Linked DNA regions of Homo sapiens. The protein of the gene in region 2 purifies or fractionates together with the protein of the main gene of each other region. This does not show direct contact. Each region holds a gene or a part of one and is shown on either strand. Other genes may lie near its edges.

Evidence for each region.
Region 1: the proteins of CNRIP1 (region 2) and UTP4 purify together in Homo sapiens (affinity purification with mass spectrometry; 3 studies listed by BioGRID and IntAct, with this or other methods). This does not show direct contact.
Region 3: the proteins of CNRIP1 (region 2) and KCTD5 purify together in Homo sapiens (affinity purification with mass spectrometry; 2 studies listed by BioGRID and IntAct, with this or other methods). This does not show direct contact.

The regions. Positions count from the first base shown.
Region 1 is NC_000016.10:69,153,197-69,166,173, reverse strand, and holds part of UTP4 (U3 small nucleolar RNA-associated protein 4 homolog), read right to left. Parts: intron 12,591-12,977; coding exon 12,494-12,590; intron 11,782-12,493; coding exon 11,717-11,781; intron 10,304-11,716; coding exon 10,181-10,303; intron 9,091-10,180; coding exon 8,934-9,090; intron 5,819-8,933; coding exon 5,712-5,818; intron 3,092-5,711; coding exon 2,996-3,091; intron 834-2,995; coding exon 648-833; intron 1-647. UniProt on the Homo sapiens protein: Ribosome biogenesis factor. Involved in nucleolar processing of pre-18S ribosomal RNA. Part of the small subunit (SSU) processome, first precursor of the small eukaryotic ribosomal subunit.
Region 2 is NC_000002.12:68,289,830-68,299,246, forward strand, and holds the end of CNRIP1 (CB1 cannabinoid receptor-interacting protein 1), read right to left. Parts: intron 4,198-9,417; coding exon 4,033-4,197; 3' UTR 3,181-4,032; downstream 1-3,180.
Region 3 is NC_000016.10:2,706,515-2,715,499, reverse strand, and holds the end of KCTD5 (BTB/POZ domain-containing protein KCTD5), read right to left. Parts: intron 8,203-8,985; coding exon 8,173-8,202; 3' UTR 6,470-8,172; downstream 1-6,469. Other genes in the region: PRSS27 (serine protease 27 isoform 1 precursor), read left to right, coding at 1,164-1,435, 1,802-1,971, 2,686-2,880. UniProt on the Homo sapiens protein: Its interaction with CUL3 suggests that it may act as a substrate adapter in some E3 ligase complex. Does not affect the function of Kv channel Kv2.1/KCNB1, Kv1.2/KCNA2, Kv4.2/KCND2 and Kv3.4/KCNC4.

The DNA.
Region 1 (12,977 bases), on a different chromosome or scaffold from region 2:
GAAACAAAGCACCTGCCCAGAAAAGCCATACAAATTCAGGGTGAATCAAAACAGCAGCTGGCAAAGAGGACAGAATCTAAAACTGAAGAAAATGCTCGTATCCCATGTAAATCACAGCCATGAAGAATTTTCCTAGCTGGGTTTTTCGAAGATGTTAAGACCAGTTCCTCAAGCCTGCAGACAGCGTTTTAGTAGCTTTAGCGAAGGGGCACAGAGGTCAAAACCTCAGCCTGTACCTCCTTTAATGAAACCAGGTTATTCAGATACCCCAGAGTTCAAAGTTGAAAGCAAGTTAGCCAAATCAATGATACTTCCGGATGAGGGTCACCTTCCGAATACTGGCCTAATCACTTTTCTGTGTAAGATTTATGTGCTTACTCGCAAAGTAGACAAATAGTCAAATCAGCAAAAGCCAGTATACAAAGGCCAGCCCCTTCCCCGAGAGCCTCCCGAAGAACTGTGGGAACACAAACCAGGGAATCTGTAAAACAAAAGCCCCTCTCCTCCAAGAAATGTACTAGCTACCTGTATTCTGATTTACTAGCTACCTTTATTCTGAGTCTCTGTCCTCTTACCTTATTGTACTTGTTGCTTTTAGAACTTTAAGATTCAGAAGAAGATTTGGGAGGTAGCAGTGAAGAACTCACCAATGACTTGTCAATGATGCAGAACATGTAGGCATCATGGAGAAGGATGTGCATCGGTCTCTTGGGATGAAAACTGATGTGTGTGATAGGAGTATCCCTTTGGAGCCAAAGGTGGTGAAAGCCCTGCTTCTGGACAGTCCGGCTCCAATCTGTATACTGTTTGTCTGGGATGCTGTACTCAAATACCTGAGGGAGGACATGACATAGAGAAATGCAGGCTGGTACTCAGAAAGACCAGAAGGGCATTCTCATCCCTAACCAGAAAGTATCTATACAAAGCTTCAACTGTATTATATTCATTCTATGCTCTCCCAACACTTTTTTTTTTTTTTGAGATGGAGTCTCACTCTGCCACACAGGCTGGAGTGTAGTGGCGTGATCTCCGCTCACTGCAAGCTCCGCCTCCCCGGTTCAAGCCGTTCTCCTGCCTCAGCCTCCCAAATAGCTGGGACTATAGGCGCCCACGAGTACGCCCGGCTAATTTTTTGTATTTTTAGTAGAGATGGGGTTTCACTGTGTTAGCCAGGATGGTCTTGATCTCCTGACCTCGTGATCTGCCCGCCTCAGCCTCCCAAAGTGCTGGGATTACAGGCGTGAGCCACCGCGCCCTGCCCATCTTTTCAGAGCTATTTTATGCACATAATACATAGCGTTCTGTATCTTGCTTTTGTTGCTCAGTGTTATATCACGGAGACTGACCCACATTAATACACATATATATCGGTCATGCCCATTCTGAAACACAGAATAGTCCACTCATTTTGTCCATGTATCATGATTTACTTATCCACTCTGCTTAATGGACATTAGCTTGTTTCATATCTTTGTCTACTACAAACAAAGCTGTCTCTGTATAAATGTCTTTTTGCACAGCTAGAAGCATATATATCTATATACAGATATATATATACATATATATATATATATATATATATATATAAAGAATGATTAGAACTGAAATTTCTAAGTCAAAGACCATGTGGACTTTAAAATTTTTAAGGTATTGCCAACATGTCCTCCAAAAGGGTTAGGATAATTTACACAATGTGTGAGAGTACTGTTTCCCTATACCTTCAGAACACTGTATATTATCAAGTCTTTGATCTTTGCTAATCTAACAGATATAAAAAACTTCCCATCAGTTTTACTTTCAGAAGCACTTAAGGGACTAAGTGCCAGTAAAAGGTGTCATGGGGGAAATTATCATTATGTGTGACAAAGGCAAAGATGTGTGGCTTCACTACTCTTTCAGTCTTTGGTCAAGGACTCAAATCTATAAAACTGAGAGATTTCACTTTTTGGACAGTGTGTGTGTGCATGTGTGAGTGTAAAAACTGACCATCAGCCGGGCGCGGTGGCTCAAGCCTGTAATCCCAGCACTTTGGGAGGCCGAGGCGGGCGGATCACAAGGTCAGGAGATCGAGACCATCCTGGCTAACATGGTGAAACTCCATCTCTACTAAAAATACAAAAAATTAGCCGGGCATGGTGGCGGGCGCCTGTAGTCCAGCTACTCGGGAGGCTGAGGCAGGAGGATGACATGAACCCGGAAGGCGGAGCTTGCAGTGATCGGAGATCGCACCACTGCACTCCAGCCTGGGCGACAGAGCGAGACTCTGTCTCAAAAAAAAAAAAAAAAAAACAAACTGACCATCAAAGCAGTAAGCATCATTTGCCTAGCACTCTACTTAAATGTGCTTCCTGGATTACATTTAATCTTCCCAACAGCTCAGTGAGGTAGATATTAACATCTCCAATTTTACAGATGAATTATTGATAACTTCCTAATATAATTATTGATAACTTCCTAATATATTCCGCAGCCCAGGTTTTTTTTTTTTTAAAGATCTCCTTATAATCACAATCTCCTTACAAATTGGTATAGAAAAAAGTAGATTAGGTTCTAATTTTGGCTGAGATTAGGTACCTGATCTTATTAGGGCTTGATTTCCTCATCGGCAAGCGTAAAGGTGAATGATACAATCTTTTAGTCACTTTCAACTCTCAAAATCTTATTCCATCCCATATCCAGTTTAATACCCAAGCCCATGTCATCTCTCCTCTAAAACAATCAGGAAAATGAGTACTTCAAAATTCCTCCTCCCTCTTGTGATTCTTTACTCTAGAATCTTAGTGCTTCTCCATTTAAATTGCATCCCATCAAACCAATGCATACTGCTGGCCTATGATGAGCCCAGACCGGCAAGGAAGCTTTACTTCACACAGGAGAAAACTACCTTATATCCTCCAACACCTTCAAAAAAAAGCTCCCCGCAACTGCCCAATATTCCAGCTTCTAGGTTACTATCCAGCAGGAAGGGAATAGAAAGCACTGGAATCTCCCTTACCTGCTGGTCCGAATGAGCGATGACAAGGTTGTTGGTATTGGGGGCAATAGCCATAGCAGTCACTGGGAAATTGTAAGCAGGCACCGTGCAGTGAAGCTGGGAACAAATAACAGACACAAGTGGCAACTCTAAGTGACACTTTTCCTCAGCAAAGATTGAATGGTCTAGGTCAGGGGTTTAAATACTGCTCCTCATAATTCAAAAGGGTTCTAGGGAAGTTCCAAAAATTTCAGGCATTTCCCCAACCAATGAACTTTCATTTCTTTTTCTTCTCTTTTTTTTTTTTTTGAGATGGAGTTTCGCTCTTGTCACCCAGGCTGGAGTGCAGTGGCGTGATAATCAGCTCACTGCAACCTCTGCCTCCCAGGTTCAAGTGATTCTCCTGCCTCAGCCTCCCAAGTAGCTGGGATTACAGGCGCCTACCACCACACCCGGCTAATTTTTTGTTTTTCTTTTTTTTTTTTTTTGAGATGGAGTTTCACTCTTTCTCCCAGGCTGGAGTGCAATGGCATGATCTTGACTCACTGCAACCTCCACCTTCCGGTTTCAAGTGATTCTCCTGCCTCAGCCTCCCGAGCAGCTGGGATTACAGGCACCCACCACCATGCCTGGCTAATTTTTGTATTTTTAGTAGAGACGGGGTTTCACCATGTTGGCCAGGCTGGTCTCAAACTCCTGACCTCAGGTGATCCACCCACCTTGGTCTCCCAAAGTGTTGGGATTATAGGCGTGAACCACTGCACCTGGCTTAATTTTTGTATTTTTAGTAGAAACGGGGTCTCACTATGTTGGCCGGGCTGGTTTTGAACTTCTGACCTCATGATCCACCCACCTCGGCCTCCCAAAGTGCTGGGATTACAGGCGTAAGCCACCGCACCAGTCCTCATTTTCTTAAAAAAATACCTATTGGTTGGCCGGGCGCAGTGGCTCATGCCTATAATCCCAGCACTTTGGGAGGCCAAGGCAGGCGGATCACGAGGTCAGGAGTTTGAGACCAGCCTGGCCAACATGGTGAAACCCCATCTCTACCAAAAATTAAAAAAATTAGCTGGGTGTGGTGGCGTGCACCTGTAATCCCAGCTACTCAGGAGGGTGAGGCAGGAGAATCACTTGAACCTAGGAGGCGGAGGTTGCAGTGAGCAGAGACTGCGCCACCACACTCCAGCCTGGGCAACAGTGCAAGACTCAATCTCAAAAAAAAAACAAAAGGCCTATTGGCTGGGCGCAGTGGCTCACACCTGTAACTACAGCACTTCGGAAGGGCCAGGGCGGGAGGAACGCTTGAGTCCAGGAGTTCAAGACCAGCCTGGGCAACACAGCAAAACCTCATCTCTACTAAAAAAAAAGATTAGCTAGGTGTGGTGGGACTCGCCTGTAGTCCCAGCTACTCAGGACACTGAGGTGGAAGGATCGCTTGAGCAGAGAGGTCAAGGCTGCAGTGAGCTGTGACTGTGCCACTGCACTCAGTCTGGGTGACAGAGTGAAACCCTGTCTCAAAAAAATAAAAAGCTTATTTAACCGCGTACAAAACTAACAGCGTTTGTGGAGAACTGAGAGTAAAGCCTTTCCCTCTGAGTAAATCCATCTGTACAAACTGCTTATAAATGTGTCATTGAATAGGGAGTCTACAGCTCTACACCAGGTTTAAAATAAATAAATGCCTAGGCATGGATTTTTATGTACAATTGCAAAGCATGTGCACGCTACACACAAACACTCTTTAAATGCCAGGCAAGGCTCAAAGACAAGTGCTCAGTACATGCTCCTACCATAATGCAACAAAGGTTACACTATGCAGTTAACAGGTAAACCCATTAAGTGTTGCAGTTTGATGTTATTCTATACACTTTTAATGCTTATTCCAAGTTTTGGGTAGTTCGAATCTGATTCTTATAATGAAGATGAGGACTTGTAAGGGATCACTAATGACTCAATTTATGACTGACAGCGTCATTACTGATTAGTGAAAAATGTTTTCCCAGTATTCCTTTTTCGAAGTTTTGATTATGTTTACCTTGAGATTACAAGGCAAGCCATGAAAGGAACTCTTATTATCTGCAACTATTTGTCTGTGTATATCAGAATTTTCCTCCCGAAAATACAGAAAGAACCTGGATGTGTTTACATCACCCACAGATCATTAATTTCAAATTTCCAGGTATGAATGGGTTTCACTGTTTCCATTAGCTGCTTTTAATGTTACACAGTATAGCTTCCGGGTTCCATAAAAATAAAACAGGATTCCAAACCTGGAAAAATTATTAGTTAAAAAGAAAAAAGTCTGGCCAGGCGCGGTGGCTCATGCCTGTAATCCTAGCACTTTGGGAGGCCGAGGTGGGCGGATTGCCTGAGCTCAGGAGTTCAAGGTCAGCCTGAGCAACACGGTGAAACCCTGTCTCTATTAAAATACAAAAATTAGCCAGGTGTGGAGGCACACACCTGTAATCCCAGCTACTCAGGAGGCTGAGACAGGAGAATCATTTGAACCCGGGAGGCTGAGGTTGCAGTGAGCCGAGATCGCGCCACTGCACTCTAGCCTGGGTGACAGAGTAAGACTTTGTCTCAAAAAAAAAAAAAAAAGAAAAGAAAAGAAAATAAAAAGAAAAAAGTCTAATAAATTTCCAGGTCATGCCAATCTGCCTTGAATCTTGTAACTGCAGGGTGAACTGGCTCCTGTACAATGATTCAAACTGCTGCCATGAAACCCTATGCTCACCTTTAGCTGTTTTACGTTGTAGACATGGACTCCAGCACTGGTACCTGATGCAGCTAGCCAATTCCCATCTGGACTGACTGCCAAAAGACACATGGCCTCCACTGTTCCTGTGAGGACAAAACAGTTACATCTCTGAATTCACACAGTGTCCACAGCCAGACCTGCCCTGGAGATGATGGCAAAAGCCAAGGAGACCATTAGAGTTTTAAATCACTGCCAGGATAATTTGCTGATCACTGTGCAAATTACTTCTAGATGTTAATGTTTCTACTTTTTTCATCTACTTATTTAACCATCCCGCCTGTAAAGAAGGTCCAGAGAGATAAAACAGAAGTTATTACTTCCTCAGGCCTAAGACACTGCTTACTACAGGAATAGAGAATGACGGCAGCATCTGCCACTAAAATATATACTTTAATTGTTTCAAACTCCTTTCCTACCAAATGGTTTTTTTTCTGTTTTTTGTTTTTTTTTTTTTGAGATGGAGTCTAGCTCTGTCACTCGGGCTGGAGTGCAGTGGCGGATCCGCTCACTCCAACCTCCAACTCCCAAATTCAAGTGATTCACCCGCCTCAGCCTCCTGACTAGCTGGGATTACAGGCACCCACCACCATGCCTGGCTAATTTTTGTATTTTTAGTAGAGATGGGGTTTCACCATGTTGGCTGGGCTGGTCTTGAACTCCTGACCTCAGATGATCCGCCCACCTTGGCCTCCCAAAGTGCTGGGATTACAGGCGTGAGCCACCGTGCCTGGCCTCTTTCTTTTTTCTTTTTTTAGACGGAGTCTCACTCTGTTGTCAGGCTGGAGTGCAGTGGTGCAATCTCGGCTCACTGCAACCTCTGCCTCTCGGGTTCAAGCCATTCTCCTGCCTCAGCCTCCCAAGTAGCTGGGACTACAGGCGTGCACCACCACACCCAGCTAATTTTTGTATATTTAGTAGAGATGGGGTTTCACCATTTTGGTCAGCATGGTCTCGATCTCTTGACCTTATGATCTGCCCACCTCGGCCTCCAAAAGTGCTGGGAGGTGTGAGCCACTGTGCCCGGCCCCTAAATTTTTTTTAAGCCAAAATTATGGACAGGCCAGGCGTGGTAGCTCACACCTGTAATCCCAGCACTTTGGGAGGCAGAGGTAGGTGGATTACCTGAGGTCAGGAGTTCAAGACCAGCCTGGCCAAGATGGTGAAACCCCATCTCTACTAAGAGTACAAAAAAAAAATAGCTGGGCGTGGTTGTGGGTGCCTGTAATCCCAGCTACTAGGGAGGCTGAGGCAGGAGAATCACTTGAACCTGGGAGGCAAAGGTTGCAGTGAGCCGAGATGGCACCAATGCACTCCAGCCTGGGCACAAGAAACTCTGTCTTTTGAAATTCTATCTCAAAAATAAATAAATTAATAATAAAAAAAAAAGTTACGGACAAACAGCAAGTTCAATAGACTTGAAGCATATCTTTAATTTATTGGATGCCTGCTGTGTATTTAGCACTAAGGGAGGATGGGCACGTCTGAGCCATCTTTGTCATCTAGAGACTTTAAACCAATCTGGCAACACGACAACTAGTGTGGGATAAAAATTGGACAGTGATGCTCTATGCCAAAATGCGTGCTGCATGTAACGCCCCCAAACGATAACATGGCTTTATAACAAGCATAACCCAGCTGCCAAAGGATGGGTGGGGATGAGGAAAAAAGGATGGGGAACAGTGCAAGCTAAGTGACGAGGAGTAGAATATGCAGGTTTGAGAGCTGTGAAGAAACCATTTTGACTACAAGGGGAAGTGAGATGAGAGAAGTGGAAAAAATAAAGTCATATACATAATGTAGAGTCGAATCTCAAGGAGAGCTAGATATAAGATAAATAGCCTAAGTTTTGTAATAAAAACATATATAGATAATAAATAGTTTGATTTATCTGACCCCTAACTTGTGGGTTTCTTCTCCTGTAGGCTTCTGGATCAGCTTATGAACAGTGAGAGTTGAAGATAAAAGAGTTGACTTTCACTAGGCATGGTGACTCACACCTGTAATCCTAGCACTTTGGGAGGCTGAGGCAGGAGGATTGCTTCAGCCCAGGAGTTTAAGACCAGGATGGGCAACATGGTGAAACCCTGTCTCTACAAAAATACAAAACTTAGCTGGGTGTGGTGGTATGCTCCTGTGTACTTGGGAGGCTGAGGTGGAAGGATTTTCTGAGCCTGGGGAGGGTGAGGCTGCAGTGAGCCATGATCGCACCACTGCACTCCAGCCTCGGCAACAGAGTGAGGCCATCTCAAAAAAAAAAAAAAAAAAAAAAAAAAAAAAGAGTTGACTTTCCAGGCTGATGGGAGTGTAAATGACAGTGAAGCAGCAGCTAAAATCCAGGACAAGGGAGAGGTGAAAGGCCCATAGGAAGTATCAAAACAACTACCAGCTTAATCTGGAAACTGAGTCCAAGTCCTTAACAGTTAGCCATAGCTAGCTACATAGCCACACTCATTCATTAATACTCACATTCTCAATGAAAACAGAAAAATTCTCAGGAACATTATATGAACACAGGTAATTAAACTGTATGTATAAGAATACTTTTGGGCCAGGCACAGTGGCTCATGCCTATAATCTCAGCTGGGAGGGCAGGATGGGAGGATCACTTGACCCCAGGAGTTCAAGACCAACTTTGTCAACATAATGAGACCCCGTCTCTACAAAAAAAATGAAAAAATTAGCTGGGCATAGTGGTGAGTGTCTATAGTCCCAGCTACTCAGGATGCTGAGATGGGAAGATAACTTGAGCCCAAGAGGTCGAGGTGGCAGCCATCTATGATTGTACCTTTTTATGAACAAACAACCAAAAAAGGCAACATGCCCACAAAATACTTATATACAAATACATATTAGAAAATACCAAAATATTAATGGTAGCTATTTCTGGGTGTCAGGATTGCAAATGACTTTAACTTTCTTCTTGTTCTGCTAACAAACTAAGGATGATGAAATTTCTCTGGCCCCAAATAAGGAATCAAAAACCCAGTGAGAAAAGAGTAGGTGTGAAGAACATTGCAGATCTCATCGAGAGTCTTCATCTGCCAGCTATCTCCTCCTACTTGAAACAGCAAACATGTGAGTGAGTGTATCTGCAGGGTAGGAGGAACATGAGGGAACCCCCGACATGGAGGCTTAAAAGCAAAAAAGTTACATCTTAGACACGACAAGTCTCCCCATGGCCAGTTACCAGATTCCCACCTGACTGAGGCTGGAAAGCATGCAGGTGCTTGAAGCTTCCTCCTGACAGCTGAACAATATGCAGAGCTCCTTGATTTGATGCTACAAAGAGCTTTGTTGAATCTTCAGAAAACAAAATCTGAAGGGCAGAGCGAAGGAATGCTGGCATTTTGGAAACCTTTGGGTGAACCAATAATAAAAGCCAGTGAGAGAAGGGAGACCTACAGCCCATCAGAAACAATCACAGCTAGGCTTAAGGTACATTAATGCTTCCTGTCTCTAAGTAAGCCAACTGACTCGGCACAGAACACTGGTTTCTCTCCAGTAATCTATACATCCCCCTTTCATCTCTTTACTAAATATTCACTTCTCTATCAAGGAAATAACTAAGTCGCACGTGAAACCACTAAACAGAAAAGCTTTAATTTTATTGCCTGTAGGGCATTACCCTATCCCTCTAAGAACATACCTCAAAATTTCAAAATGGAAATAAAGGCTGGGTGTGGGCCGGGCGCAGTGTCTCATGCCTGTGATCCCAGCACTTTGGGAGGCTGAGGGGGTGGATCACCTGAGGTCAGGAGTTCAGGACAGCCTGGCCAACGTGGTGAAACCCCATCTCTACTAAAAATACAAAAAGTAGCCAGGCCTGGTGGTGGGCACCTGTAATCCCAGCTACTCGGGAGGCTGAGGCAGGAGAATGGCTTGAACCCGAGAGGCAGAGATTGCGGTGAGCTGAGGTGGTGCCATTGCACTCCAGCCTGGGTGACAAGAGTGAAACTCGGTCAAAAAAAAAAAAAAGGCTGGGTGCGGTGGCTCACGCCTGTAATGCCAGCACCCAGCACTTTGGGAGGCTGAGGCGGGTGAATCACTTGAGGTCAGGAGTTCAGGACCAGCATGGCCAACGGGTGGTGAAACTCCATCTCTACTAAAAATACAAAAATCAGCCAGGTGTGGTGGTGGGTGCTTGTAATCCCAGGTACTCGGGAGACTGAAGCACAGGAATCGCTTGAACCCAAGAGGCGGAGGTTGCAGTGGGCCAAGACTGTGCCATTGCACTACAGCCTGGGTGACAAGAGCAAAACTCCGTCTCAAAAAAAAAAAAAAAAAGAAAGAAAGAAATAAAACACTGTTTCATAACAGCCTTCTCCAAATCTCCAAATAGTTTTTAACTGAGCAAGGATTCACATCCAGTTGATTTCCACTTCACACAAAAATGACATATTTAGGAAGTTTCCTCTTATGTGACCAGATATTGGACTATCACTTACCCTTTTGAGGCTTATGTTGTCATGTTCATAATTCAGCCGATAGAGAAAAAACCGAGAAACTGTAGAATAGGCTATCCAACTTCCACATGGGGAGATACAGCTACAGATAATGTTCTCAGGACCCTGGCAATATCAGGAATCAAGATGAATGTGCAATTAAACTTCACATAACAAGGTGCACTGGGACATGACGCCTCAAGCTCTTGCCACTCTGGACATACCCACAGATATCTACACATAATCTCGATCCTCGTGTGGTCTGCATTAATATGATTATTTCAGAGGCAGAGCACCTAAAAGGCATGGCTTTGATTTCCAAATCCAAGAATGGAGGTCTATTCTTATTTTGGCCCTTTGAATACTTCATAGATAGCCTCATACTAGACCCCAACTTCAGAAACCTGAGCAGGGAGGCATTTACTGAAGGAAAGCTCTGGAGGATAGGTGGTTTGAAGTACTTATTTTCTGTTTTGTGTACGGCGTTCTGCTTTAAAGACTTCTAAGAAATAGCAAATGAAGAACATTTGAAGGCCAGGTACAGTGGGTCATGCCTGTAATCCCAGCACTTTGGGAGGCTGAGGTGGAGGATTGCTTGAGCCCAGGAGTTCAAGACCTGTCTGGACAACATGGTGAAACCCTGACTCTACAAAAAATTAGCCGGGCATGGTGGTGCACACCTGTAGTCCCAGCTACCTGGGAGGGTGAAGTGGTAGGATCACCTGAGCCTGGGAGGTTGAGGCTGCAGTGAGCCGTGACCGTGCCACTGCTCTCCAGCCTGGATAACACAATGAGACCCTGCCTCAAAAAAGTAAGCAAACAAACAAAAAAACCAACCAACTAACCAAACAAAAAAGAATCTGGAGAATAAAGAAAAGTTGAATGTAACATGTATGTAGTTTTTAAAAACTCACAAAATGATTTTTTTTTCATTGTATACCCTTTTGTACTATTTGAGTTTTTAAAAATATGCACATGGCTGGGCGCGGTGGCTCACGCCTATAATCCCAGCACTTTGGGAGGCCAAGGCGGGCGGATCACCTGAGGTCGGGAGTTCAAGACCAGCCTGACCAACCCCATCTCTACTAAAAATACAAAAAATTAGCCGGGCGTGGTGGCGCATGCATGTAATCCCAGCTACTTGGGGGGCTAAAGCAGGAGAATCGCTTGAACCCAGGAGGCGGAGGTTTCGGTGAGCTGAGGTGGTGCCATTGCACTCCAGCTTGGGCAACAAGAGTGAAACTCCGTCTCAAAAATAAATAAATAAATAAATAAATAAATAAATAAATAAAAGCACATTATTTTCATAATAATATCAAAAGAAGAGAAACCTATTTCCTGTATACATCCATCTAATAAATCCTCAACGTCCTACTTATAATCACAGGAAACCCAGTCCTGGTGACACAGTCCTTCATTCAAATAGTTTTAGAATTTATACAATTTATGATGCAAACTAAGTAACCTCAAAATTCAGAATGGGAATTATGAGCCTAGAATTCAGGCTCTAGAATTCAGAGCCTAAACAAACTTCCTTACCTTTGTCTTTAGGTGCAGTAAATGATCTGCATTTTTAGAGAGTGGAAGAGTATCCCCATTCTTGCCTGAAACAAGAAACTTCCCTGAGATTTTTCTTATGAAAGAAAGAGTATTTGTACATTTTTCTTCTAAAAAGTTACTCCTTGGAAAAATGGAATCTCTATCAGTGGGAAATCAGAAAAATACAAGCTCACTGAGTAAGCTCACAATTTTTGAGGGGTATATGAAGAGAAAGCAGTGAGTACTTCTTTTGCTTCTATCCTCTGATACATCACTAATTCCCTGAAGCTCTAGTCCATAGCCAGGGACACAGGTGGAGTTTGTGTGGCCTCGATTTTAATCCACTGCAAATGAGAGGACTCAAACATTTCCTTAATAAGTCAAAAAGGCCACTAGGCTGTCACTCCAATAAGATCCATGTGATCTTCTTTTTCTACAGGATTATCATTACCCATCATTAAATCTTGTTGTTTTTCAACAGCCTGTTTTCACCTCAGTTAAGCTAGCGCAAACTACGATTCTTCAACCCTTACCTTGACTACACCCTGCAGCGCACCACCTAGAGCCATAAACTTTTAAGAGATGATCCAATATCCTGCTAAAGATTCTAATACTCTAAACAGCTTATTTGCTTTATCTAATGGGTGGGAAAACCATTAGTTAAAATGGACACAAAAGTCTACTTCAGTTTTTCTATAAGCAGAATTCCAACCGCAATTCTGATTTCTGGCTTCTCTCTCCAGTTTTCTTATTGAAAAAAACGTGCTCCCATCTTACCTGTTGCAACTGTGGATCCCAGTCGCCAAAGTTCTAAGTGATGAGCAAACTGGAAGAGGAGAAGCTGCCTCTTTTTAGAACAGGAGATGAGACATCGCTATATCCAAGAATCAAGAAGTTAAAAAAATAAGTCAGGGTCATCTACTGCCTTAGTACCAGATACAGTAGCACCACCTTAGCACATTTTTTACTGCTGAAATCCATTTCCTTGATAAATATTTCCTAAGTACTCCCATATGCCAGGCACTGCCCTGAGATCTATGAAGACGATGATGAATTAAAACATAGCTACTGCTCTCAACATGCTTCTAAAGGGGTGACACAGAATTAAATCAGCAATTAGACTTCAGTGTGCCAAGAATTTTAACACGGCTAAACACAGTATGTACTGAAAAATAAGGAGACAGGACATCTAACCTAGCTGTGTGGTGGTAAATACAGAAGCCCAGATGAGGTTCACTGGGAAAGACCAGTCAGGCGAAGG
Region 2 (9,417 bases):
GAACTGTTCTGAAGGTTTAATGTACATTAACTTATTTAATCCTCATAACCATTCTGCAAGGTAAATACTATTATCTCCATTTTCCAAATGAGAAAATTGAGGCACAGAGGTATTAAGTGACTTGCCTAAGACCACACAGCTAATAAACAGCTGAGCTGGGATTTAAATTGAGGTATTTTTGCCCAGAATCTGAACTTTTTTTTTTTTTTTTTTTTTTTGAGAAGGAGTCTCCTCTGAAGCCCAGGCTGGAGTGCAGTGGCATGATCCCGGCTCACTGCAACCTCCTCCTCCTGGGTTCAAGTGATTCTCCTTCCTCAGCCTCCCAAGTAGCTGGGATTACAGGCGTGCACCACCATGCTGGGTAAATTTTACATTTTTAGTAGAGACGGGGTTTTGCCATGTTGGCCAGGCTGGTCTTGAACTCCTGACCTGAAGTGATCTACTCGCTTCAGCTTCCCAAAGTGCTGGGATTACAGGCGTGAGCCACTGCGCTTGGTGGAGAATCTGAGCTTTTAAACACTGAACCATGATACATTACTGATGATAATGGGCCCTCTTTCTAAATGAATCAGGAATATCATTAGGCTTATCAATTTTTATTTGATATATACAGAAACTACTGTGGTTTAATACAGGATTATTTATGTACCTACAGGATACAGTTGTCCCCATCTACTGTTCTTTTGATTTACTTTGTCTGCTTTTTATAGTTTTCTCTGTCCTCTCTGAAAAAAAAAGAATATTTTCAGTATATCTGCCTCTACAAATTGTCTTCTTCCCTTTCATGTTCTACTTCCAATTTCATAAGAGTCAGAAACCAGATCACCCCACATGTTAGAATTGTGTCTAAAACAGGAGTCAAGAGGCCTTGGGAGAAGACCCGAGCCTTTAGTGAATGGACTTGGTGACATCTGTGACAGGGATCTTTATTTTTTGGCATGTTTTCTGTTCTTAACTGTGATCCAGATAGTTTAAATGGCTGGATAAGTGACTTCTCAGTAAGCGAGGTGTCACAAAATATAAACTCAAGGCATTTCTATTCTTCCACCTGTTCAAAAGTGTTTTAGTCATCATCATAATTGGAAGGATGGCCTAGTTCCTCAAGCTTCTGGGTAGCCATCTGATGCTTGGAGGTAGAGAGACGTGGCTACAACTTGTATAAAAATAGCCCTTCCAGATGGCTGAGGGGCAAAGTTACAACTCAGCAGCTCGATATAGCTGAGCACTCAAATTTTGGAGTAGGAGGAGAGCTATGTGAGAAGTAGCCAGAGAGACTGGGCTGGAGCCCAATCATAAGTAGAACAGTATATGCCAGGAGCGATCACTTAACGTGCAGATTAGCTGTTAAGTTTTTCTGTTACTTCATCTCCATCTCCTCCCCAACTCCCTTGATTCAACCTTACTTCTGGCCCTAAGGAAACACATACACATACGACATAGACAGATATGCACACACACTTTCCCCTTTTTTTTTTAAAGGAGTATAAAATAGAGGAACAAACCATAACTCTTAAAAGGCTTCAGAATTCTACTAGTCTAACCCTTCATTTTAGAGATAAGCAAACTGAGGCAGAGAAAGGTGTGGTGACCATCCAGGATGTGAGCAGGACTCCCACGCTCCAGGTGCTCTGCCAGGGCTCATCTTCTGGCTCGTTTGTGGGACACTGATAACAGCGCAGCTATCCCAGGACATGTTTCCTCCAAGTCTGCTTTGACTCATTTCAAACTCTAAATAAAGCCTTTAGTTAAAAAAGAAAAAAAAAAGTATGGGCCCAGCGTAGTGGCTCACGCCTGTAATCCCAGCCCTTTGGGAGGCCAAGGCAGGTAGATCACGAGGTCAGGAGTTTGAGAACAGCTTGACCAACATGGTGAAACCCCATCTCTACTAAAAATATAAAAATTAGCTGAGCGTGGTAGCACACGCCCGTAATCCCAGCTACTCAGGAGGCTGAGGCAGGAGAATTGCTTGAACCTGGGAGGTGGAGGTTGCAGTGAGACAAGATCATGCCACTGCACTCCAGTCTGGGTGACAGAGTGAGACTCCATCTCAAAAAAAAAAAAAAAAAAAAAGAGTGGATTATTGCAAAAGTCATGATAATGTCTCCACCCTCAACACAAATACTCAAGCTCTAGTCCCTGGCTTGAAAACCTGTTTCACCAGTGAAAATATTTACTAATCAAATTAGTAAATATTAAATTGTGTAGTTCCCACTTTTTATTTTAAATCTTTTATTCACTCTGCATTTCTATTGGATATTCTGGAAGAAAAACCTCTGTAGTAAATCCATTGTTTTAAATATCTCAATGTCTGTTCAAATAATTGAGTGTTGGTTTTAAAAAATAGTCATTAGGAATGGGTTAGTACTTACGTTTTAGCAATTGTAATGAAGACTTTAAAAAAAAACAAAAAAACAAACAAAAAACACAAGCTTATTGAGAAACATGTTACACTCCTTTAACATCATTTATGATCCCCAAAGGCAAGGCATTGCTGTTCCCTGGTGGCTGTACAGCATCACTGCAGGTAAGCGATTTGGAGGTAGAAAAGGTGTTGAGTGCCAGCCTTTCAAATTCAGTTCTACAATGAATCAACTTTTAAAAATACTCCCAGTAGCTTGCATTTTCTTATAAGAAGGGTTTACAGGTAGCAAAAACAAACAATCCCCAACGAACTTTTTCCAATACTATAGGATTTGTGCTGCCCAAGTAAATATTACATTATTGGAAAATAGCATGTTACTTTTCAAGAGGAAGTTCACTTCCTTCTTATGGAATTTATCCTTAAACTGTATGGTATATGGGCTTTGTGCAAGGTGCTGGAAGTAGGCAAGGAGGCCTCAACCATGATGTACACACACTATTATAGCACCATTGCTCTCCTGCTACTGAGTCACATAGCTCACCAACTGGGGAGGGGTCACCACAGAAAGAGTAATGGAGCGAGATAGGTACAAGCATTTTTTGATTGCCCGCCAAGCACCTGGGCCTGTGCTAGCCCTGTTAAACTTGGCTGGAGCAATCCTGCTAAAAGGTCAGGCTTGATTCATGAATAGGTGTGCTAATTCTACTCCGGATACATCCCCGTCATCCTGTAGCATACAGGCCTGAGTGAAGCTGGCCTAGAGCAGGGATTCACCTGCTAGATAATTATTGCCCAAATTAAGAATGCAAGTCAGGGCATGATTTTCAACGCCTTTATTAAGAAATATCAAAAGTTGATTACAGGTCCATATGCAGTTTTACAAAGTTCAAGTGAAGAAGACTGTAGGGATGCCATCAATGTGCGTGTCTGAAGACTATGGAAGCTTGTCAAAGGGGTAACCCTACAACTCCTGTCACTTTAACAATGGTCCACAGCAATGCTTTTCCCCCATTTCTACTAGGCTAGGCCATTGCACAATACCTTAAGCTACTTAAAAGAGTTTTAATACGTTATAAATACGTACATATTTGTCCTTCTAGTTTGTTACCATCCTTCCCTGAAAGAGCGGAGCTGTTTATAGGAAGCACAACATTTGAGTCCCATTCACTGCTGTTTGTATTACATTTTCACAAAGCCTGCTTTGAAAGCTGGCAAACACTGCAAGTTACATGTTACCATATTACACATGGGAGGACCCATACACATTGTTATTTTTAAATTTAACATTGAACAAAAAAAAGGAGGAATCACTTAACTTGGAAACAAAACACCAAAGTTAGTCAGTGGAATGGTCAAGAGCAGGACAAGCCTGCCAGGGCCACTGAACTCCAGTCACAAGTGGTCAAAAGTATGACCGAGAACAACTGGATGCAGGAACATCAGCACAAAATACAGATGGGAATATTCTCGGGAGTGGTACATCACCATCTTGTATGTGAGGGATATTGTGTCAGAGGGGAATTACACTTTCAAAATAACCAGGGCTAGTAGGTCATTAGTACCAGATGGGGAACAGCAATGGTGTGGCATGCCTTGTTTAAGGCCTGCGCTGGTTTATCTAAAAGTAGATTTCTGAAAAGATTGTCCAGTAGCATCAGAAAGAGCCACTTTCAGAGGAAGGACTCCTTGTTCACCCACATCAGACTGCGTGTCTCGTTGGGCTTGCATTCATACTCAATGACAGAGAAGGGGCTTCCCCACTGGCAGTGATCCCGCTTGTGGTAATTGTAGAACTTGACTTGCCACACTGTCTCGAAGGTCCCAATGTCTGTGAACTGAGGGAAGAGAAACATGCCTGATAAAAAACCTCATTCTGCCACGAGCAATAGATGAGAGCTAACATTAGTGATGTAGCTCCTGGATAATCAAGCAGACCCAGTCCAGATTCTCTTGGTCTGCAAGGCTCGGAAGGCTTTCCTTTAGTGGTCTAGCTCCCTCCTTTATGATGGGAGATATTTTCCTAAAAAGCTGTCTGTAAACCATTCTTCTCTATAAAATCTGATTCCCATTGCAAACGTGCCACTCGCTATCATATTGCTTTTAATAAAAATAACTGCAAAGTTTATCTTGTTTTTCAAGTTTAATTTTTTGAAAACTTAGAATTTTAAAGCTTACTCTAAAATGGCCCCTGCTGGCCAGGTGCAGTGGTTCACCCCTGTAATCCCAGGCTGAGGCAGGATGCTAGCTTGAAGCCAGGGGTTCCAGAATAGCCTGAACAACAAAGCAAGATTCTGTCTCTAAAACAAACCCCCATGTTCATCCCCCAAATGGTCCCTGCTACAGAAGGGGAATGGCGAAGGGAAGAGAAGGAATAAAGTTTACTGGCTTTTCTCAAAATACAATGGTACAAAACAACCTGTCTACAATACATCTACATAAAATTTCCATCATTAGTTTCAATTCCAAAGAAAAATATTTCAAAGTGATAACTGAAAATATTTCATTGGAAGTGTTAAAGGCCATATTTTAACTATTAAACATTGAATACTTATAAGTCAGGAGTCCATGCCTACATCTTGGGCTTAGATTATACATTACCCAGAACCATATTTGAGTATCTGCTATGTACCTTGCATGTATAAAAATTCGTATAAGGCAGGATTGTTGCTCTTAAGAAGTTAGCATTCTACTTCCAGAAGGTAGGCCCTGTAAATCACTGCACAGAACTCTCCTGAGGTATAAAGTACACATTTCTCTTGCAGCTGAGAAGAGTACCTGGAATACCCTGGAGGCCACTGGGCAGATGCTCAAGTGGCCTGTGGGGTAGCCTGACCCTGCTACTGCCTTCTGGAGCTATTTAGGGGATCTGGCATTAAACTGCATGATGCCTGTCGTTATTTTCTCCTCTGACCCTCCCCTGTCATGGGAGGGGACAGGGACTGACTTGGCAGGACTCTTAGACTTGTCTGGAGCCAGAAGACGTGGACAGAGGAAGGCAGTGAGCATTAGGAGTCTTATGCTTCTTGCTGATACAGGAGGAGGGTGATCAGGTGCTTTCCAGATAGCTTTCCAAGATGCTCTCAAAATTATATCTTGCACCATTGCCTCATCCTGCTAATTTGATCCCAAAACAAGATCTAGGCTTTCCTCTGGGAAATTTGCTTGATTTGAAATAGTGGATGATATACCTAGAGTCCACAGACCTCCCAGGTATGAAAGTGGATTACCTCTTTTTAGAGAGTCATGGCTTAAAGACCTATATAAGCATACAGCAGCTTTATTCACAATAGCCCCAGGTTGGAATTGACCCAAATGTTTATTCACATGTTGATAAGCAAGTTTTGGTATATTTATAAAATGGCCTTTTGCTGAACAATAAAGGAAGACATGCTGATTCAAGCAGCAACAGGGATGGATCTCAAAGACATGCTAAGCAAAATAATCTAGGCCCCCAAAGTACATGCTGTATGAATCCATCTATATAGTGACAGAATGTAACCTACACTGACAGGAAACATCTGTGGTTATCTAGAGCCTAGGGTGAGAAGGGGAACTGATGCAAATGTGCAAGAGGGAACTTTTTAGGGGTGATGGAAGCATTCTGTATCTTGATTGGGATGGTGGTTACATGGCTGTACATATATGTTGGTCAAAACTAATTGAACTGTATGCTTAAGATGAGTCCATTTATTACATGTAAACTATACCTCAAAGTTAAGAAAAATAGAAATATCCATTTTTAGTGAGCTATAAGAAAACAGGTATTCTAAATGCTGCTAATGGGAATTGAATTAGCCTTTTGGAAGGATCATTTGCATGAAGTTAAAGGTGTGAGTACATTCAGGCCCAGCAATTCCATTTATAATTTATCTTAAGAACATCACAAAGTTTAGAGTAGTAAACAATGCAACACTAAAGGTCCATCTTTAAGGCACTATTTGTGGCATATCTATATAATGGAATACCATGTAATATTTTTAAATGTAAAGTATTTAATACAGTTTTTATTTTATATTGTTACATGAACTAAGCAGAATACCATGAAGAACATGAAGTATTAATTCAGTTAAAATTAAACTTGGCTAGGTGCAGCAGCTCACACCTGTAATTCCAGCACTTTGGAAGGCCAAGATGAGAGGATCGCTTGAGACCAGGAGTTTGAGACTAGCCTGGGCAACATAGTGAGACCCTGCCTCTACAAAAAATGTTTGAAAATTAGCTGGGTGTGGTGGCACACACTGTGAGACTGAGATAGGAGGATTGCTTGAGCCCAGGAGTTTGAGGCTGCAGTGAGCTATAATCATGCTACTGCATTCCAGCCTGGGCAATAAAGACCCTGTCTCAAAAAAAAAATGTATGTGTATATATGTGTATGTGTGTGTGTGTGTGTATTTAATGTTAGAAATCCTGATGGACTGTTTTATTTTCTCCTATGTTCTTTTTTTAATTTTTATTATATTTTTGAGATGGAGTCTAGCTCTGTCGCCCAAGGTTGGAGTGCAGCAGCACGATCTCGGCTCACTGCAACCTCTGCTGCCCGGGTTCAAGCAATTCTCCTGCCTCAGCCTCCTGAGTAGCTGGGATTACAGGTGTGTGCCACTACGCCTGGCTAATTTTTTTTGTATTTTTAGTAGAGACGGGGTTTCACCATGTTGGCCAGTCTGGTCTTGAACTCCTGACCTCGTGATCCACCCACCTCGGCCTCCCAAAGTGCTGGCGTGAGCCACCACACCCGGCCCAACTTCTATATTTTTTAGCAGAGACGCGGTTTAACCATGTTGCCCAGGCTGGTCTTGAACTCCTGACCTCAAGTGATCCACCAGCCTCGGCCTCTCAAAGCGCTGGGATTACAGGCATGAACCACTGCACCTAGCAGATTTTCTTCTATATTCTTATTTGTATTTTCAAAATTTAACGATTACTTTACCAGAAAAAAAATTAAACCAAAACTGTATTTCCCAAAAGTATTACCAAATAGTCATTATCCTTAATATAAAGGACCATATGCATTATTAGTAAGTACTACGAGGAACATTGGAATAAAAAATTGGAATGGTTCATTAAAAACAAAACAAAACAAAGCAAAAACCATAGGCTGGGCGCAGTGGCTCATGCCTGTAATGCCAGCACTTTGGGAGGCCAACATAGTAGTACCACTTGAACCCAGAAGTTTAAGACCAGCTTAGACAACATGGTGAAACCCTGTCACTACAAAAAATTAAAAACATTAGCTGGGCATGGGAGTGTGTGTCTGTAGTCCCAGATACTCAGGAGGCTGAGGTGAAAGGATCGCTTGAGCTCAGGAGGCAGAGGTTGCAGTGAGCTGAGATCTTGCCACTGCATTTTAGCCTGGGCAACAGGGCAAGACACTGTCTCAAAAAAAAAAAAAAAAAAAAAAAAAAAAAAAAGGAAAAAATGACTAACACCTGCAAAAATATTCAAATGTAATTAGTAATTAAAGAAATATAAACTTTTAAAGAGATACTATTCCTCTAACAACTTAGTGACAATTTCTGAGTGCCAGAAACAATCTAAGCATCCAACATTAGGAAAATATGAAAATGGTGGCATATCCATATGATAAACTTACAGAGCAATTAGGAATTTAGGGTTGTCGATGATTCAAGGAAATGCTTAGAACAATGTTTAAAGGAAGATGAATTGGAATGGTTTATATACATTATGAGCTCAAATATGTAAAATAAGATGTATAGAAAAAATGAAAAATATTACCTTCTAAGTAAAGAAATTGAATTTTTCTATCCTTACTCAGATTTTTTCTACAATAAATGTTACTTTTAAAATCAGAAATTTTTTAAATGGTGAAATGGATTTATCATCTTACAATAATATATACAGCCTGCAAGCCTAAGGGATTTTATAAATTCTATTAAAAATATGTACATTCTAATGAAATTATGACTTTGTTCACAATAGGTTAGTGGTGGTATGTATAAATCAAAATCTCATTTTATAATTTACCAAGACTTTTAAAGAGGATTTAGTATTATTTTTGACCAGCACAAGGCATTGCACACTTTAAGTGCAACTGAATTTTACAATTCAATTAACATTTTAATTCCAAATTATAAAAATATTTTGTAATAAAATATACACTGAAATATAAACTTTATACTAAAAATATTTTATAATACTTTTCAAATGCCAGCTAATATTTTGAAGGAAGCAGCTTAAAATCATGCTAGGTAACAGAGAAACAACACTGAGATTTTTATTTTTTGAAATAAAAGTTGGTTATAAAAATAAAAAGCCCACCAAGCTGATTACAACCAGACAAGAAAAACGTAAGGCTTATGTCTAAAAAAATTTTCAAAAGTCTCAATCTAAGAATTCTCAGTAACAAAGGAGACCAAAGTTAAAATCTGCCAATAGCAACAGTCATAGCTAAAGATATATTTAAGTGTTCATATTAATATTTCAAATTTGGTTTATTAATGTGGGACCTAAGGTCACGTTGAAGTAAATGTAACTGCTGGTAACTATGCATATGTCTTCCTCTCCCCGATGCCTTAGCTGTTTATACTTCTCATTAGCCGTCTTCCTATTCTTTCTTTTGGAGCTCTATTTCCTGGGCCTCTTACTACCTAGCTCATAATTTCTTCTTGTCTGGCTAGAAACAGATGGGGTCTTGAAAGCTGACATTCTTCTTAAAGAACAGGAACAATTATACAGGCTCTTCACTCCCTCCCCGCCCATCTGTCCCTTCTAAGGAGAATGTACCCAGGCAGGCTCCTGGGTGGTACAATTTATGCACAGGTATAATTCTGTATATTTGTATAGCACCCTATTTTATGTGATACTTTCACATACATCATTCCACTTTAGTCTTGTGCCTGGTTTTATTATCTCCAGTTTATGGACAAAAAAACTAAGATTCAGAGAGGTTAGATGATTTGCCCTCAGTCTAGACTCCAAAGCCAGCCAATGATAGGAGCAGGACAAGAACCTAGGTCTCCTAATTCCTAGCTTAGGAGCTATTTATCACTGTACAAAACTGCTGATATAAATGGTTATAGTGGACAGTTTTTTTTTCT
Region 3 (8,985 bases), on a different chromosome or scaffold from region 2:
CCGCCCCCCGACCCCCTCCATCCCCTCCACCCACTCACCCACTCCCTGTGGGTCCCTGCAGAAGCGGCCCGGCAGGCTCTGCCCACCGGCCCCTCCTGGCCTTTCCCCATCCCGCACACACCTCAGCTCCAGGACACTCTTCCCGGGAGGAACTCTGCTCACAAAGCCCAAGGACCAGACAGAACGGCCCTTCCTCCCCTCACCCACCTGAACCACCCCAGAAAGCCCTGAGCAGAGGCCAGGCCACCCAGCCCTCTGCCATGTATGAACCACCTGGTCCCACACCTTCCGGGTGTCCCAGGCCCCCTCACCTCACACCTCAACACCGCAGCTCTAATTATTTTAAACCCCACATCTTTTTCTTTTTTTTCTTCTTGATCTTTAAAAGAATATCATGACAAAAAAAACCCCACATCTTAAATTCAGATACTCACGGCCAGGCACGGTGGCTCACACCCGTAATCCCAGCACTTTGGGAGGCCAAGGCGGGCAGATCAGTTGAGCCCAGGAGTTCAAGACCAGCCCGGGCAACACAGCAAGACCCTGTCTCTACTAAAAATAAAAAAAAATTAAAAAACAAAAAACAAACAAACAAAAAAACCCCAGGTGCAGTGGTGCCTGTGGTCCCAAGTACTCAGGAAGCTGAGGCGAGAGGATGGCTTGAGCCCAGGAGTTGGAGGCTGCAGTGAGCTACAGTTGCACTGCTGCACTCCAGCCTGGGTGACAGAATGAGAACTCTGTCTCTAGGGGAAAAAAAAAATCGGAAACTCGGGCTGAGAGAGGGCAGGTCACCTGCCAGAGGCCCGCAGGTGGGGCTGGCCCTGCTGCACCTGGAGGGTGGTTCTCTCCGAGCCAGCCTTTCAGGTAGGCACTGTGACTGTCCCCACAGCACAGGTGAGAAAGCTGCATCACAGAGAACTTGTTAAGTGACTTGCCCAAGGCCACACAGCGGCCAGGGGTGGAGGTGGAAATCTGAGTCGGGCGGTCTGGCTTCAATGTCAACACGCATCACCGCTGCACCTGGCTGTCCTAGAGATGACTCTCGAAGACATTGTGCAGAGAGAGGTGTGGGGCACGGTGGTGGCCAGAGGAGCCCCAGCCCCTCCCGGGCCTGTCCCCACACGAGGGGCCGCCTCACGCCGCCTCTCTGTTTCTCCCGCCAGCACCTCTGAGACGTCCCTGTACCAGGTCCTGCTGGGGGCAAGGCAGCTAGTGCAGCCGGGACCACACGCTATGTATGCCCGGGTGAGGCAGGTGGAGAGCAACCCCCTGTACCAGGGCACGGCCTCCAGCGCTGACGTGGCCCTGGTGGAGCTGGAGGCACCAGTGCCCTTCACCAATTACATCCTCCCCGTGTGCCTGCCTGACCCCTCGGTGATCTTTGAGACGGGCATGAACTGCTGGGTCACTGGCTGGGGCAGCCCCAGTGAGGAAGGTAAGGGGACAGGGCTGGGAAAGAATGGGGGATATGCCTCAAGAAGGCCCAGGACGGCTTGGGGACCACTCTGAACCCACAATCTTCCTGTTGCTATATTAATACATACACACGGTCTCTGTTCACACAGGTGGGGCCGAGGGGAGCAGCAGCAGACCCAGAAGGAAGAGGGGGTGAAGGGAGAGGGGGACAGAAAGGGCCCAGCCTGCTGCCTGGAAGGAGGGAGGATGTCTGCCCCACAGTGCCCTAAGCCAGAGATGGTCTAAACATGAGGAAACGACAGGCAGGATGGAGTGGTGGTTCCCGGGGCCGTGGGTTCTTGATGAGGAAGTCCGTTGAGCCCTGGGCTGTTCCGCCCCTCTCCAGACCTCCTGCCCGAACCGCGGATCCTGCAGAAACTCGCTGTGCCCATCATCGACACACCCAAGTGCAACCTGCTCTACAGCAAAGACACCGAGTTTGGCTACCAACCCAAAACCATCAAGAATGACATGCTGTGCGCCGGCTTCGAGGAGGGCAAGAAGGATGCCTGCAAGGTGGGAGCAATGTGGTGTCCATGGGGACTCAGTCCCCACCGCCAGGCCCAGGGCAGGGTGGGATCATGCCCCGCTCCATGGGCTATGCATTCAACCAGCTGAGCAGCTTGTTTTGAAAAGGCAGATTCCAGGGCCGGGTGTGGTGGCTCACGCCTGTAATCCCAGCACTTTGGGAGGCCAAGGAGGGTGGATCACAAGGTCAGGAGATGGAGACCATCCTGGCTAACACAGTGAAACCCCATCTCTACTAAAAATACAAAAAATTAGCCAGGCGTGGTGGTGGGCGCCTGTAGTCCCAGCTACTTGGGAGGCTGAGGCAGGAGAATGGCGCGAACCTGGGAGGCGGAGCTTGCAGTGAGCCGAGATCGCGCCAGTGCACTCCAGCCTGGGCCACAGAGCAAGACTCCGTCTCAATAAAAAAAAAAAAGAAAAAGCAGATTCCTGGACCCCACCCCAGAAGGATCAGAGTCAGTGGGTCTGGGGTGGGGCACAAGAAACTGCATTTTCAACACACACACACACCCTAGTTGATCTGGGGACACTAAAGAATAGGCACTTTAGACAATCGGACTGGCAGGGGATGGGGAGCCGGGCAGAGAGGCTCTGGGATGGAGAGAAGGAATCCATTGCGGAGCTACACACCTCCTGTGCGGCTGCAACTGAGTCTCTGGGAACTCAAGGTGGGCTCTGACGGTGACTCTGCGTCCCCCGCAGGGCGACTCGGGCGGCCCCCTGGTGTGCCTCGTGGGTCAGTCGTGGCTGCAGGCGGGGGTGATCAGCTGGGGTGAGGGCTGTGCCCGCCAGAACCGCCCAGGTGTCTACATCCGTGTCACCGCCCACCACAACTGGATCCATCGGATCATCCCCAAACTGCAGTTCCAGCCAGCGAGGTTGGGCGGCCAGAAGTGAGACCCCCGGGGCCAGGAGCCCCTTGAGCAGAGCTCTGCACCCAGCCTGCCCGCCCACACCATCCTGCTGGTCCTCCCAGCGCTGCTGTTGCACCTGTGAGCCCCACCAGACTCATTTGTAAATAGCGCTCCTTCCTCCCCTCTCAAATACCCTTATTTTATTTATGTTTCTCCCAATAAAAACCCAGCCTGTGTGCCAGCTGCCCACGTGGGGATCCTTGGGGGACCCCGGCGGGTGAGGAGCTGTGAGTTGCAGGATGAAGCCCAGGTGGGAGATGCGGAGTGCTCTGGTCATCTCTGAATCAGCAGAAGGGAGCTGCAGCTGGTGCCCGAGGCGAGGACAGCACCAGAGTATGGGACCCCTGTCACGGGCCCCGCACAGGAGGCCACCTGCTGCCACCTGTGCCTCTGTTCTCTCACCTTAAAGGCCGCCCCAGGGTTGGCACTGGGGACAGCGACGGACACAGGTGGAAAGAGCCTCAGGGCCATGCAGGAGCTGTGCCGGGGCGAGAGGAGGGCATGGAGGGACTGGCTGGGCGGGGGCACCTCAGCCTCCCAAGCCTGCACTTCCGGCTGCCCGTGTCTCGGGGCCACCCAACTTTTCTAAACCACTTCGGCAGGAGTGGGTGCCCACACCTGTGCTTTCCTGCTCCACTGCTCCTGGCACCCTTCGTCTCCCTGTGCCCCGGCGTCTCCCCTTGACCCTTGGCTCCTCTTCCTCCGCCCCATCCCTCAGTCTCCACCCCCATGCAGGAGTCCAGAGCAGTGCGTGGTGGCAAGGGGATTAGGCTGGACATGCACATCACACCCACACGCACCCGTGCACACACACACAGGCACCGTGGCCTGTACAGCGGCAGGAAGAAATCAGGCCCTGAGTGTCCACCAAGGAATCAAACCAACACCCACTCAGCAAGCAGCTGCTGGGGACACCGTGGGGAGCAAAACAGAAGGAATTCCCCGCTGGGCCCGACCCATCTCCCCAACGGCTGCCCAGTGGCCCCCGTGGGCCATTTCTTGCACTCCTCCAGCCCAGGGGTGGGTGGGCAGGTCTGGGGGGCCTGTGCGCACAGCCCCATGGGGGAGCAGATGCACGAAGCCCAGGTGGAGGGAGAGGCAGGCCCAGGGAGCAGCACTGGGTGGTCCTAGCCAAGCAGGGACTGGCCAGGCCTCCCAGCCTCGGAGAGCCCTGGGTGAACCTGCACCCTGCTCTGGGCTGTGCAAGGAGCCCCAGGCCCCCGTGGTCAGAGGGGAGGCTACAGGTTAGATGGTCTAGGGAGGGCAGCCCCTGCTGTCTTTGTGCTGAGACCCCACCCAGACCCAGGATGTCAACAGGCAGATGCCCGTGGGAGAGGAGCAGAAAACACTCTCTACAGAGACTAGGGGTTGAGAAGGGAAAACAGGGCTATTTCATGCAATTAACAGCTCCCACGAAGCATGCCGTGAGAAGGACGTTAGGAAGGGAATAGTCCAGGTTGCCACAGGTCCCTTTTCCATCCTGGGGCGGGGGTGCAGCTCAGACTTTGCACGCTGCTGCCAAGCAGGGCTCTGAGCCATCTGCCAGGTGGGCGGCAGCAGGGCCCCTGCCAGCTCCAGGAGGGACTCGAGGGAGAGCCTGGCACAGGCCCGCGCACATTCTGTGGCTCACAGGGAGGTAGGCAGAGCGGGCGGCAGCCTTCATCCCCAGGCTCAGCTGGCCCATGTGCACACATACACACACCATTCCCATGCCACTCACAGGCACACACAACACATGCATGTCACATGCCACACACAGGCACACACCACATACCAAGCACACACCACATGCCACACATCACATACAGCACACATGTGCATGCCACACACACCATGTGCACACAGGCACACACCACACCCACACCATGTACAGCCAGTAGGTACACACACACACACACACACACACACACACACACACACACACACAGAGCAGGAGCGGGAGCCCCAGGAAAGAAGTCTGTGGGCTCCATTCGGGCCAGAACTGCGGTGAGGGGTCAGCCACAGGCCAGGCCTCCCTGTGCCGAGCCCCAGGCCTGGGAACACTGGGGAGGAAGAGGTGGTCTGAGGGCAAAGTGACCCATCTTGGGGGGCACGGCTCAGTGCAGAGGTGCCGGAAGTCATCGTCCCTCACACAGATGCCACGTCAGGGCCTTGGTGGCTGCACTGTGGGGTCAGCTCTTCATCGCCCCAGCCGGCCACTGCCACGAGCTTTAGGAGGAAGGAGGGTGCTAGAAGTCCCTGCTGAGTGGACACCAATAAATGCAGGGATGTCAAGGAGGGTGGTGCCAGCCGCTGGAGGGCTCCAGTCATGGGCTCTACAGGAAGCCTGGGGAGGACGGGCACCCACGCAGGGCACCTGCATGTGCCCCGCCCCTGCCTCCTCTTCTGCCCCCACGCTGGCTTCCTGGAGCCACAGGGCTGGGCCCCAGTCCCCACAGCGGGCGGGCTGTGCTGGAGCCCAAGGTCTGAGGAGGAACAGGGCTCCCTCCCTGCCCAGCAGACCCAGCGGCCCTGAGCATCCTCGGCTTCAGGACCCAAACTGCAGGGCCTGTCTCCTTTACAGCCTTTTGCTTGGATGGGAAACCTGCTCCGGGCTTTGGCTGGGGACGCCTGCCACGCTGAGGCTTCTCCCAAGTGCCCACAACTCTACCTGGTCAAGGGGCTGTAAGGCCTAGCCAGGCTCCTGGTGGGAGTCGGGCAGCGGGAAGACCCCTTGGAGCAGAAACTGGGTCTCTCCCCTACTCCAAGCCCCGTGCCGGCCTCATGCTGGGCACCCAGAAGCCCAGTCACCCACTCCACCCCTCACCAGGGCCCTGGGGTCAGGCTGGGCCAGCCACACACCTGGAAACAGGATGGACAAGGCCACTACAGCCTGAGGCTCTGTGACCTCAGACAGCCAGGCCCTGGGGGACACCGTGAATGGGAATCTCCCTGCGGGGGGGCGGGGAGTCCAACAGCCAAGGCTTCGTGGAGCAGCCACCAGGAGGAGTCACAGCAGCTGGCGAGGGGGTGCCGGGACCCCAGGACCTTCTCGGGAAGCTCCTGCTGTCACAACCCAGGCTGCAGGCTAAAGTGAGGGAAGAGAGGTGGATGCTAACTTGAGGTATCAGGACTTTCAAAAAAACATCACTTGAGCCGCGCGCAATGGCTCACGCCTGTAATCCCAACTGCTCAGGAGGCTGAGGCAGGAGGATCACTTGAGCCCAGCAGTTCAAGACCAGCCTGGGCAACATAGCAAGACCCCTGTCTCTTAAGGAAAAAAAAAGGCCCTTGTACATGGTCTCCGGTCTCCCGGGATGGGGGTATGCTATCTGCTGGAGGTAGGTGAGGGGTCCAGGCAGAGTGGGGTGCAGGGATGGGCCGTGCAGCTCTGATCCAGTGACCCTGGCCAAGCCGGCACCCCGTGGATGGCCCAGCTCCGCCCTGGCCATCGACTGAGAGGCAGAGGCAGAGCCCTGAGTGAGCCGCCGCGGCCAGTGGGGCTGGGCGGCTTGGAGGGGCAGCACCTTGGTCCGAGCGACCCGGGGTGGCATTCCCCTGCATCTTAAGACCATAAACAGCTACTACGCGCATTCATAAATACACAATTTTATTTGCTATTTCCAGGGGAAACTTAGGCATTAAACTGTAAGCTGATAAAATACGATACCTAAAAAAGTATAAAAGTATAAATATCCCCTTAGAATAAATTTTAGTGAATTAAGTCTTAATATCTTTAAATTAAAAAAACCACAAGCCTATCTACTATGTCAAGGTCAAAAATCAAACAACGCTAAGCGGCCAGCAGCTCCCCAGAGAGGATGCCCAGGAGCCCCAGCGGCCGCCTTCCTCCCAGGCTCTGCTGGGGCTAAGTCTGCCTTCTAGAAAGGCTTTTATAAATTGTTTAAGCCAAACATTTAACAACATACAAGAGACCTTACAAAAAGAAGGAGGTAAGTCCTAATGCTGGAGAATTGGTTAATCAGGTGACTGGCAAAGAGGAGGATGAGGCCTAGGCAGGAAGTCTCCAGAAGCATTGGAAACCAGACAGTGTCAGAGCCTCTGACCTGCAGGCGGGAGGCCGGTGGTCAGTCTGCACAGTACCCCTTGGGAAGCCGGAGTTCCGGAAGCAAAGCGCTTGGAGCCCGCCCTGCACGCCGAGTCCCCAGACTCTGACAGGTCCCCACAGCCAGCTGAGAAAGGTCTGTTTTCAAAGCATGCGGGCAGCGGTTTCTAAAGGAATCCCAGCAGCTCCCACGGCATGTCGGGCAGAGCCCGTGCAGGTCGAGTGAAGTCCCAAACATCCCAGAAAGAGAGGGAAGGCTGCATAGTTATACAAAGAAAATGAGAGAGCGGCGAGAGAGAGGCATTTGTGATGCTCTGTAAACATCCCGAATTTTCACCGTGACGCAGACCTTCAGCTCCAGAAGCCAGTGGACAGGCCTCCAGCCCAACCTCTATGCCAGGCGTGACAAGGCACTGACAGACGCCAGCTCCCCGTGAGCCCGCAGTGGGAGGGGCGAGGCGACACTGCTACCTCGCGCTAACGGATGGAACAGATCAGTCTCCACGCGGCAAGCCCTGTGGGCATTTCCAGAGGAAAAACGCTGGGGAGTCTATCCACACAGAGAAGGGGTACAAAGTTCTCTTGCCTGGAAAATACAAATTGAGAAGCCTTGACTGTCCCGGGCTTGGTCAGGTGGGGTTGGAGCCCGTGTCAGAAGAAGGCCCGGCCTCGGAATGGCGCCGGGAAGCAGTGACGACGCAGAAGCCGCCTTTGTCAGGAGCTCTGCGAGGTCGAGAGAAACCAGCGATCCCGCCTGGGAGGCAGAGCAGACTCCCTGACCGAGACTAGGGCCTGGTGGTCGGACCAGAGGCCACGACGTGCTGGACACTGACGCGGCTGCGGCCGCTTCCTGCCAGTGAAGCCCAGGCTGCTTTTCCAGACTGTGTGTAGCACCAAGAACGCTTCCTTCACACGATCTTCAGGATCGAGCGGGCTGACTGGGAGTGTCTGCCTCAGTCCCACGTGGCACTTGGAAAAAACAGAGCGAGGCCCCCCCAAGAGGCAGCGCCCACCCGGCCGCCGTGCTCCCCCAACTTGGGGACGTCTGGCCTTGGACAGCTGGGCCCGTCTCTCACCACCCACCTCAGAGGCAAAAAAGGATTCACACCCAGATCTCTAGAAAAATGATCAAAAGCAGGTTTCTTCTCACAGCCAAGCTTCCTGGACATGGCAGTTCATTACATCTCGGGAAAACGTAAATCATTTCTTCAGCTGTCAATACTGTGTCCCTCACATCCTTGAGCCTCGTTCTTGCAAAATCTGAAAAACACCAAATGCATAAAATGAGGACTTGGGCTGAGGAGGTGTCCCTGACCAGGCGCCTGCTCCAGAAAACAGAGCCCACAGGCCTGGGGTTAGCTCGGGGAGCCCCGGGAACCCAGCGGCACTGGCCAGGGTCTTGGGGACTCAGCTGGCAGGCCCAGGACCTTCACCGGGGTGTCTGGCACATCTCCAGGCCCCACACAGGGAGCGCTCACTGTGCATGGCAGCCCCTCCCAGACCCACCCAAAGGCGCTGACTCTTGGGCCTCTCAGCCCACTCAGTCCTGGGCCTCAGACATGAAGCGCAACTCGGCCCGCGGGTCCCTCAGCAGTCCAGTCCCCCCTCCCCAATTAAGTCTCTCCCTCTGTTCCTCCATGCCCACTGCAGCCCCCACCCCCACCCCGACGCCCGGACCCTCCTGGAGATGCCCCTCACCCAAGCCCTCGGCCCTGCACCTCAGCCTGGCCAGCCCACCTCATGTGCTGGCCCCTCCCGACTGCCCCATGGAACAACCACCAGCCCTCAGAGGGCCCTACCCCAAGTGCAGATCACGCTGCGGGGATCCCCTCCTCATCTGTACCACGTCAGCCCTGCAGAGCCCACGGCCCCTCGGCCCCCTGCCCTCCCCACCCTCCAATCTCCTCAAAACTCTTCCTCAAGGTACCCTCCCCACTTCCCTCACCAGTGTCCAGGAACCCCCTGAGGCCACCCCCAAGTCGGCCTGGGCTCCCCTGAGGACAGGCTCAGGCGCTGGCCAATGCTGCTGAGGTGAACTCCCAA